Regions from separate parts of the Homo sapiens genome. Here region 2 is linked to region 1. The links come from fine-mapping of genetic effects on gene expression. A gene starts in region 1. The other region holds a variant in brackets. All regions are shown on one strand. Distances are from middle to middle.

Region 1 (5,249 bases):
AAAATTAGTGTTATAATATCTTTCATTAAAATAATCTACTATCTTAAGATAGATATCTAAGTAAAAGAGCAAGGAACTCAGGAACTAAATATCAGGTTTGAGACCTTAATTAAATTACTTAACTTTCTCACCAATAAAGCAAGGTTATACTGTACTCTACTTCACAGTTTAATTCTGAAGATTAAACAAAATAACACATAAAAGCACAACATAGTTACAGGCACATGTTTAACACTTCCCTCATCTTAGCACAGTGCCATACTCCCAATAAGCATACAACTATTAAGAAGTAAAAGTGTACCAAAAAGGAGCAATATTAAAACTGTGTGAACTATGTGAAACAGAAATTCTAACAAAAGCACCATCTATTCATACTAATAATCTTCAAATGAAAAGCTTCAATTAGAAGTGAAAGTTACTAAAAGATATTCAAGTATTTTGAACGAATTCAACTAGTAAATACACTTGGATTACATTCCCAATGATTTCCTCTGAGAGATTACATATGAGGTACAAGATTACACATGATTTAATAAAATGGACAGAGAGCACACACAAAGCTGCAGTTTCCCAGGCTGAGAAAGACAAATCTAATTTGTCCTTCCTGGGGAGGAATGTATCTTAAATGAACAAAATTTCCTTAGAATACACAAAAGTAAATCAATGTATCAAAGGGATTAGGAAAAAAGGGAGCTTTTTCTCGAAATCCAAAATAATAATACGCATGACCTAAATGAATCTTCTCCAAATATTTAGGGGGGAAACCCCACTTTAATTGTTAGAATTGGTGCAAAGCAGCTGGATTTAGTAGAACGCAGCCCATCAACTGCTAATTCTGAAAAAAAAAAAAAAAAAAAAAAAAAAATCTAGGGGTGGAGAAAGCAGGCAATCTTCCCAATAAAACAACTGCCACAAAACACTGTACATACGTAAGAACATAAACATCTGTTAAAATATCAGTTTACACTGTTCCAGCCAACTTACAGATCAAGAGGAAGTATTTAAGGTCTAAAAAATAAATTACATTCTACTTTTAGTCACATTTTGCATGGGTGGCTACTGGACACTAGGAGTTATCGACGCGGATTCAAGACAAGGAAGACTGAATAATAAATCCAGTGTTCACATTCAAATGTGGGGGAGAGAAAAGGGCAGGCTCTGAGTCCATAAAGTTCTCCACACTCTGAAAACACTGCAAAAATAGTCCACATCTAAGGACACTTACCCTTGAAACTCCTTGGAGAGTGGCTTGGGAGACTTGCTGTTCAGATTTTTGAGGGGGAGTGATTTAAGAATGCTGCAAGATTGCAACTTTCAAACACAGGAACATAATCTAAAGTGTTTTTTTCTTTCAGTAAAGATCTCTCCCTGTCCTCTTCAAACAGTTGATCAGCACTCCCATTTTCACAAAATCCCTAATTCAAGTATAGAGCCCCTCCTCTCCCACAAAAAAATCAAAGCTTTAAAGAATATGCAAATAAAACACACAGATTATTTCCAATAATCCCTAACTCCTTCCCAATTGGGAAAAGAAAGGAGAAACGAAGGAACACGAAGCAAAAACACCAAAACACTCGGGGAAGGAAGGCGGCGAGATGAGAAAGTAGGAATGGGTGGGGGGAGGAGCACGGAAAAAAGTCCAGCTGATGCTGACACTTAATTGGAAGGAGAGGATGGAAAATATCCTGAAGATACGGGCTAGAAGGAAAGGACTAGGTGGGACAGGGGCGCGATAGAGTAAGTCCACGCAAAAGGCCTACCCAAGAGGGCCACTGTGTAGAAGGGAACACCAACAGGGAGCAAGACTCCCCAAGATTACTTCAAGGCCCCAAAGCTTAAGAGACAGGGCATAGGGAGATGGGGTGCTTCTCCACTGGCAATGCAGACACCGCACCAGACGTTTCGGGAGGCAAGTCTGCCGGAAGGGGTGAGGGGTTAACTGCGGGGGTTCGCAGACGTGGAAGGGGGTGCGGCCCCCGGGGTTGCTGGAGGAGAGCAGAGAGGAGGCCCACGGCGCATACCTTGTAGTAAACATCAAACTGGATGTTCTCGGGCAAGGAGCGGATGTCTCGGCGGGAGCGGATGTAGTTGTCCACGACAGCGGAGATGGCGGTGTTATAGAGAGTCTCTGGGATCCACTCTAGTTCCACGGCCGCCATCTTCCTTCCCTCCTCCTCCGCCTCCTCCGCCTCCTCCTCCCGAAGGCCCCCACCTCCCTCCGTAGCGAACCCCTCTGCGGCCCCGGAGGATTCGGAGGGGCGGTGGCAGCCACGCGGGCGCACGGCAGAAGGCACGGCCGCCCTGCCTCCTCCGGGGGCAAACTGAGGGACGGCGGCAGCGGACGCAGGCCCGAGTAAAAAGTGGGACAGAAAACAGCGGCCAGCCAGGCCAAAAGCGTCACAATCCCGGTTCGAGAGGAACCCGGGTTCCGTCCCAGCGCTGATCTCTGCAGGGGCGGGGCTGCGTGTGCGGCGTCATGACGTAAGCGCACGCCGGCGCGCCGGAGGGGAGGAATGCGGCAGGCGGAAAACTTAGGAAGAGCTGGATGCCTCCCACGGAGAGCGTCCCTTCCAAGCGGCCCCGGAGTGGAGTGGAGTGGAGTGGATAGGGGTAGACTTTTCACACGGGGACAAATTATTACAGGATATCTGCGCCCCCTGTTCCGAGTCACTCGGGGCCATCGGTTACTTCAGCAGGTTCTCTGCATCACGGACCCTTTTGAGGCTCAGGTAAAAGTTTGGATCCTCTCCCCACAAACGAGCAAAATTATCTGTACATTGAAAATTATGCATTGAGAAAATTCACATTACTCTAGAAACCCTTAGACTGCAGTTCCTAACCCAAGTTAAGAACCCGCGGTCCAGGAACTAGGGGTAACGATAGAAGAGAGACTTGTTTTTCTTTGTATAACCATTTGCACCGTTGTAACTTTTTGACCATGTTTCTTTATCCAAATGAAATTTCCGAAAAAAGAAAACTCCTGCCCCAGAACTTCGTAGGAAAACTAGCTTGATTATGGAATTACAAATAATAGTAAGAGAAAAAAGGCTAAGTGGTGGCCGTGATAGGACTTAATGGTATTTCAATTCCCAGAGTTACAGTGGCGGCTTCAAGGGATTGTTGAATAATTGGGAGTACTTGTTTCAGCTTCTTTCCTTCCTCAGCCTGAACATCTGCTGTTTATGTAACTTAATTTCCTAAGTCTGCGATTTCAAGAATTTGATGCAACATCTTTCTGTTCTAGGAATTTACCATGGAAATTATTGGCCATAATTGTTGGTGACACTATCAAACTCATAGTCACTCTATAACGATGTAAGTCCAGAAAACAGCCATAATAATAATGTCCTGATTGATATTTAGAGCTAAAAGAAGTGGAAAGAGTTATTTCAATTTACCCTTCACCTGGTACTTCAGTGTTAAGTGGTTAAATAATTCCACAAAAAATAAACACTCTTAATCTTCTTCAGTCTATATAAATTCTTACTCTATACTGTGAACCTAGGAAAGCTGTGGATGGCCTCAAGATCAGATTGCCAGTTTAGCAAGTAAAAAACTACAAGGCTGGGCGCGGTGGCTCACACCTGTAATCTCAGCACTTGGGAGGCCGAGGCGGGTGGATCACGAGGTCAGGAGATCGAGACCATCCTGGCTAACACGGTGAAACCCCGTCTTTACTAAAAATACAAAAAATTAGCCCGTGGTGGCGGGCGCCTGTAGTCCCAGCTACTCGGGAGGCTGAGGCAGGAGAATGGCGTGAACCCGGGAGGCGGAGCTTGCAGTGAGCCAGGATCGCGCCACTGCACTCCAGCCTGGGCAACAGAGCGAGACTCCGTCTCAAAAAAAAGAAAAAAAAAATTACAAGTGCCCAGTCACATCTTAATGTCAGATAAACAACAAATGGTTTTGAAATGTAAGTATGTTCTGTGCAATAGTTTTGCTCATGCCTTCGGAGCCACTCAAGTGTATCAGTTCATTCAGCAAATCCTTCATCACTTCTTAGACACTGGCGCTTTTGAAGATCAGGATCCCTGCCCCACATAAAAGAATAATTATTATCTCTGCAAATATTGCAGGGGACATATTTATACTAAAAACTTATTTGTGACCAGCCTGGGCAACATAGCAAGACCCCATCTCTACAAAAAAAAAATAGCCACATGTGGTGGTGTGCACCTGTAGTCCTAGCTACTCAGGAGGCTGAGGCAGGAGGATTACTTGAGCCCAGAATGTTGAGTGAGCCATGATCATGCCACTGCACTCCAGCCTGGGTGGCAGAATGAGACCCTGTCTCAGAAAACAACAACAACAAAAAACTTTGTTGTTCATCTGAAACTCACATTTAACTGGACACCTGTATTTTATCCAGCAATCCTACCTAAAGGGATCCATGAATCCCCTAACATTGAATGCACATGTTCTTGGACATTTTGGCTAAATCAGGACCCGTATTAAGCTCCTGTAAACAGGTAAAGGTGTGTCAGACACACATATTGATTGCTTTATGGACCTTAGATGCTGAGTGTATTAGTCCGTTTACACACTGCTAATAAAGACATAGCTGAGACTGGGCAATTTATAAAAGAAAGAGGTTTATTGGGTTTACAGTTCCACATGGCTGAGGAGGCCTCACAATCATGGTGGAAGGCAAGGAGGAGCAAGTCACATCTTAATGTGGATGGCAGCAGGCAAAAAGAGACAACCGAAAGGAGTTTCTCCTTATAAAACCATCAGATCTCATGAGACTACCACAAGAACAGCGTGGGAGAAACCACCCCCATGATTCAGTGATCTCCCACTGGGTCCCTCCCACAACACGTGGGAATTATCAGAGTACAATTCAAGATGAGATTTGGGTGGGGACACAGAGCAAAACCATATGACTGAGTTAGACATTAAAAAATGTATATAGTCACAAAGGGGACTCTGGATGGAAGGGCCTCTTGATCCCTTCTTCACTGCTTTCAGATTGAAAGTTATTCAGATGTGTATGATGGACTAGGAGGTCGTGACCAAGAGCAGATAAACTGCCAGAAAGGATAAGTCCCCTGAGAAGGACTTAGTCCTGGCAGTATTCATCACCTTCTAACTGAAGAGCCCTTGGGCCCTAAATGACCAGCAGATATACCCAGATACTATGTTGAGGACCTTGGGTGAACCTCTGAGACTTGCTGGCTTCAGATGCCAGCATGGCCACAGAGGGGTAGAGCACCAAGTGGGCCCTTGGGGTTCCTGATTCCAGGACTTGA
Region 2 (5,249 bases), 82 kb before region 1:
TTAGGAATACACATGAGCCACCACGCCTGGCCTGCCATATTTATCTGTTCATGCATTGTTAAGACATTTAGGTTGCTTTCGCTTTTGGCTACTGCAAATAATGCTGCTACACGGGTATATAAATATCTGTTCAAGACCCTTTCAATTCTTTTGGATCTATACCCAGAAGTTGAATTGCTGGATCATAAGAGTAATTGTTTTTAATTTTTTGAGCACAGGTGATAGTTTTTCACAGCAGATGCAGCATTTTACATTCCTGTCAACAGTGCACAAGGGCTCTCATTTCTGCACATCCTTGCCAACACTTACTTTCTGTAATAGCCATCCTAATGGGCATTTGTCTATAGAAATGTGCGCTTAAAGTAACTGAGTGTGGTTTGCTAACACACTCAGGACAGTATCTGTCACAGGATAAACTCTATGTTGAATACACAGATCAGCAAAGTTTACAAGTTGGAAAGAGTCTTAACACTGTAAGTTATATGGCCATATGGTAATTGCTTTCACAAAGCTCTAAAATGCTGCATTAATACCAAGTGGCAACTCAAACTTTAAGGGAAGGGTTCCCTTGATCTTTGAGCTTGACAGATGAGCAACACTATCCAGGAAATGGCATTCCACAAGGACGACGAAATCGCATGTTCAGAGGTTCAGTCATGGAGATGTAAAAAGAAACATTTTTAAATTCAGTATCACTGAAGGTGGCAGGCAGTGAAGCTGGTGCTGACTATATTCCAAGTGATGGTGGGATTTTGTCTACAATATTTTCTTCCTAATCTTTAAAAATATGGCTTCGTTTCCTACAACTGGTTTCTGAGTCCTTCAGATTTATGCTGTTTCATGGTGAAGTTTTTTAAAGACCTGATTTTACCCCCTTATTCATGTGAGGAAATAAAACACAAAGAGGGCTGGAATGACGTAACTCAGAATCTTCCAGTTCAGAGACAGCTGGAACTGAAACTCCAATCTAGGCTTTTCTTCACTATTCCAGCAGAACTTTACCAGGTCTCATCATTCATCTTCAGCCTTTAGAGTGAGAGGATTCTTAAAAGAATGGTATACTTTTGTAAAGACTAAAAAATCCCTTTGCATTAATGCAGTGCTTTGTCTTTTTCCAAGTGCTTTTCATCAGCACAATCTCCAGATGTTACCATGCGCCTCCTCTGCCACACATCTTAATTTTCTTGAACAAGAGCACTTTTGTTCTAGTTCCAACAGTTTCTCTCACACTGTTCTCTAATAAAAACAGTCTGCAAAGCTTAATCCCAACCAAAAGCAATCAAAACCAAATTGGAAACAGATACACTATGAATGCAGGAACACTATATTTATTAGGTCAATAATTCATTTTTAGCAATACAAGTACAGAATATATCACAATGCTGGTTACAAACATACTTAGTATGGTTTAATAGTTACAAATAACGGTGGGCACTACAAGTTGGTGAGAATGATATGAAAGGTCATCCTGACACAATGAAGAACCGTCTTCAAAAATCTATTTAATGACCTTAGATATTTCTATAGAAATTATTGTGGCACTATTAGTGGGGATTTTCACGTAAAGATTGTTAGTGTTTTGTTTTTAACTGTTCCATTAAGAACTTTTTATTTTGAGCCTATTAAACTAAAATCCCCTGTTGCTTAATAAAGTATAAAAATAGTACTGACCTGGTAATATTTAATAAAACGTAGCATTCATTCACATCATAAAAGTAGAACTGAAAAGTTTTAGTTACCATGGCAAAATATCTTCCCATAAAAGGAATATACAGAAATGAGTAATGTTACACAAACGGTACCTGCAATGGTTATTTAGTGATCCAACACTTAACTGTGCACCACAAACCAAGTTTTCTAGATATCTATATATAGGATATATTTTTAATCTTAAATTTTACTCTTGAAAAACATGTGCACTTCAACAAACTCACTAAGGCCACTCATGCTATAGATACCTAGGATTGCAATTAAAGAATAGTATTATGCAATAAATCCTAAAGCACACTCCTTCTGATTATCAACAGGGTAAAACCAGTTTTCTGCCTAAAACATTCCTGAGATTTATGGACAAAAGAAGTACTGTTGAAGCTGGAGATTAATCCAAATGTCATATTAACAACAAAAAATTTCCTAGCCAGGCGTGGTGGCAGGAGCCTGTAATCCCAGCTACTCGGAAGGCTGAGGCAGGAGAATCGCTGGAACCCGGGAGGCGGAGGTTGCAGTGAGCCAAGACGGTGCCATTGCCCTCCCAGCCTGGGCAACAAGAGCGAAACTCCGTCTGAAAAAAAAAAAAAAAATTTCCTGGCAACTAAGTTCCTCCACAGCCAAGAGGTGAAGTACACATCCACTTCTAAAGCAAAGATAAAACCCCAAAAACTTTGTACTTATAGTGTTTTTCCAGTAGTAACTTTGCCACCCAGAAGAAAAGCAAGCAGCAAGGCTACAAATTCTAGGGAAAACATAAAAAGTGGCAGTTAATGATACCTGTTATGAGCAAATCATTATTTCTATGTATAAAGTTTCAGCCAAAGGCTTCAATCATGTTTTGGCATGTGTTCACTGCAGTTTTCTGTCTGCACTATTAAGGAGCAGCCAAATGGCACCTTCATTATTTCTAAGATCGCAGCCTCTGTACTTAATTTTCATAAAATTATAAACTTTTCCCAACAGGCTAGGAACAAAGGTCTTTCTCAAATTATTTTCACAAGTGAAAAAATACCTGGGCAGGGGTTACTACAAAGCAATAGTGAGCCAATTTTTAACCAAGCAGAGACAGAGATTTGATGGTAGTAAGGGTCTCAATCCCTTTGGCAAAGTCAGCTTTGAGG[A/G]TCCATAAAGATTATGCTCTAAAAATTCCAATTGACTCTATTAAATGGAATGCAGGCATGAGTGGCCACCTGAGCGACACATGCGAGTGCTGACGGAGCTCCCTGATGCACCCAACTGGAGTAGCACCGAACTTTAGGAAAAGACTGGGTAGAAGAGTCAGAGAAGGATGAGACCAAAGGCCCCTAATTTAACATAACTTTGCTGAACCTCCAGAAAAATCTTTAAGTTGGCCAGGGCTTCCTTACGCACCTCACCATATGTAAAAAGTTTGCGCAAGTTAACTTATTGTGAGATAAATTTTATTATTTTCTTCAAGATTTTTAAGAAACCCAATAAATCATAGTGGCACACATCTAACTTATCCTAAACATCCCTACTTAAAGGATGAATCTTACACTTAAAGTCATAGGGTATTATTCTTCATTAGAACCAGAAATAATAGCACATTAAGTCATATCCCTAACCAAAATGGCAATGTTTTCTTAAGCTAGAGTGTATGCATTAAAGTATATGGATTTACAAAAAAACTACATTAAAGCAGTGGTGATAAGGAGAAACTGCCAATAATGATGTTTCAAAAAAACACAACTGGCTGCCAATTGACATTATCACCCTGTGATCCTAGGCTTCTACATACCATGTTGTTTTATCACTGAGTGTGAGCTAAGTTGAGTTCAAATGGAGTTAGGGAGGATGAGGCTGTAAGTCATTTGTTTATTTTTATCCTAGGAAATGCTGTATGTGCACAAAACCAAAAAATACAGATTGAAAAAAAAACTTCATATGGAAACATGTTTCAAAATATTTATTGAAAAACAATTTACCATGACATTCCTATACCACAAACATACCACTGGATTCTAAATAACCAATAAAAGTATACAAAGCCTATCCTGAAAATATCTTTGGAGGTATTAAATATATAGGCCCATGAGGATAGAGCTGAGTAACTTAAAAATGTTAGTCCTTGGTCACAAAGACTATTTGGTAATTAATAAAGAAGTGCCTCTTGACATTAGACTGCAATTAACTGAGGGGTGGGGGGCAGCTTCATAAACTGCAAGTACGTCAATTTACTCTTTCCAAAATTTAAAAAGAAAATAATTCGATTTGAGGAGTAAACTCAGGTTTCTAAATCACACAGTTACCATCTTAGGGTGTGGGTTTGCTTCATCTCTTTCAGTACATCCCCCAACCAACCCCCTCCTAGGGAACTTAAATGCAATGGCTCAAAACTAATAGGACTGCAAATAACAGCTTCAAACAAGGTTGGGAAGTTCAAAAAAGTGCTTAAAATATTAATAAAATTTGAAATCTACAACTTTTCTGTACTCAATGTGGCAGACAGCTTAGATTTTTTTCCCCTCTCACCCAACATGCATGTTAAAAGAAAACTAAAATTCAACACACATCCATTCACCCACAGACTACTCCAAGCATTAGCTAGGAGCAACATCTTTAACAGCCAAGTCATGAACCCCTGAAAATAGGGGGGGAACCCAGATTCTTAACTATAGAAGCATCAGATGGGCTACTACAGTAAGAATTGAGGTAACAGCAAAATACCTTTTTGTTTCTTGAATTGCTACATGTCACAAATTCTTAAATTTGATTATTACCTCATCATTAAATAACCTGACTGGCTTACAAAAAATCAAATCAAAACCCAATAAACAGAAAGACAAGTTAGTGAAATAGGTGTATTATTAGGGGATCTTTCCATTTGACTCCTAGATTTCAAATGAAATGACCTAGTTGTATTACTATTTACCATAAAAATGGAGGATTTTCTAAGACTTATTTTTGGGCATTCATTTTCATTAATCTCCATAAACCATACAGTAACCTAACATTTCCATCTGAACATGAACTATTTCATGACACACAGCCAATATACTTGTTAACTGCATTGATTATTAGGGCAACATTTAAAATGAGGGGGATGGCTGCAGCCGATATTTATAGACTTGCTTATGGCACTGCCATCTGTGTACCTTGACTAAAAATATGCCATTGAAATTGCCAAACTTCCCTAATTTGGTATCTATTACATAATTTTTGCATTATCCTTTTTCATTATACATCTAAATGAAATCATTCTACTGATAAAAGTATATGTAGGATCTAAAATAATAATCTAAAGCCTCTGGTCCAAGTAACCACCTTCTACATTAGGCTGGTCCTTTTTAGATCCTCCTGGTCCTGTTAGCAAATGCTATCAGAGCATCTTGCATTGTTGTACCAAAAAAAAAAAAGTCAGAAGTGCTGGTCTATCAGATTTTCTATTACATTACAGATCAACACTGGTCCAGTTCAGATGAATCTGACAGTCCTTTCCTTGTAATATAGAGTGGTTGTATCCACTTATCTGGGCAAGGTAGAAAAACGTAAGTCGGGATGTCCCTCTTTTATTAGTA

Which allele goes with the higher level. Positions count from the first base shown, and alleles are read on the strand shown. Sizes are in standard deviations (SD) of each study's normalised expression.
As copies of A replace G in region 2, the expression in monocytes after R848 of the gene that starts at base 2,470 in region 1 goes down (large effect, 0.80 SD a copy in Quach 2016).

The links. PIP is the estimated chance that this variant, and not a neighbour inherited with it, causes the effect. A credible set is the group of variants that fine-mapping cannot tell apart.
Region 2: its variant is the best candidate, but not a certain one, in a credible set for the expression of APPBP2 in monocytes after R848 (Quach 2016, PIP 0.87).

What each region holds. Positions count from the first base shown.
Region 1 is chr17:60,523,773-60,529,021 of GRCh38, forward strand. It overlaps APPBP2 (amyloid beta precursor protein binding protein 2), which reads right to left and starts at 2,470. Exons shown (of 13, transcript NM_006380.5): 1 at 2,022-2,470. The coding sequence starts at 2,159. RefSeq lists enhancers at 1,381-2,089, 1,810-2,079 and a silencer at 2,160-2,299.
Region 2 is chr17:60,441,846-60,447,094 of GRCh38, forward strand. APPBP2 (amyloid beta precursor protein binding protein 2) reads right to left here. Exons shown (of 13, transcript NM_006380.5): 13 at 1,313-5,249. Among named protein-coding and RNA genes, the nearest start is that of CHCT1, 22 kb to the left of the region's middle. The variant A/G (reference allele first, on the strand shown) is at 2,832.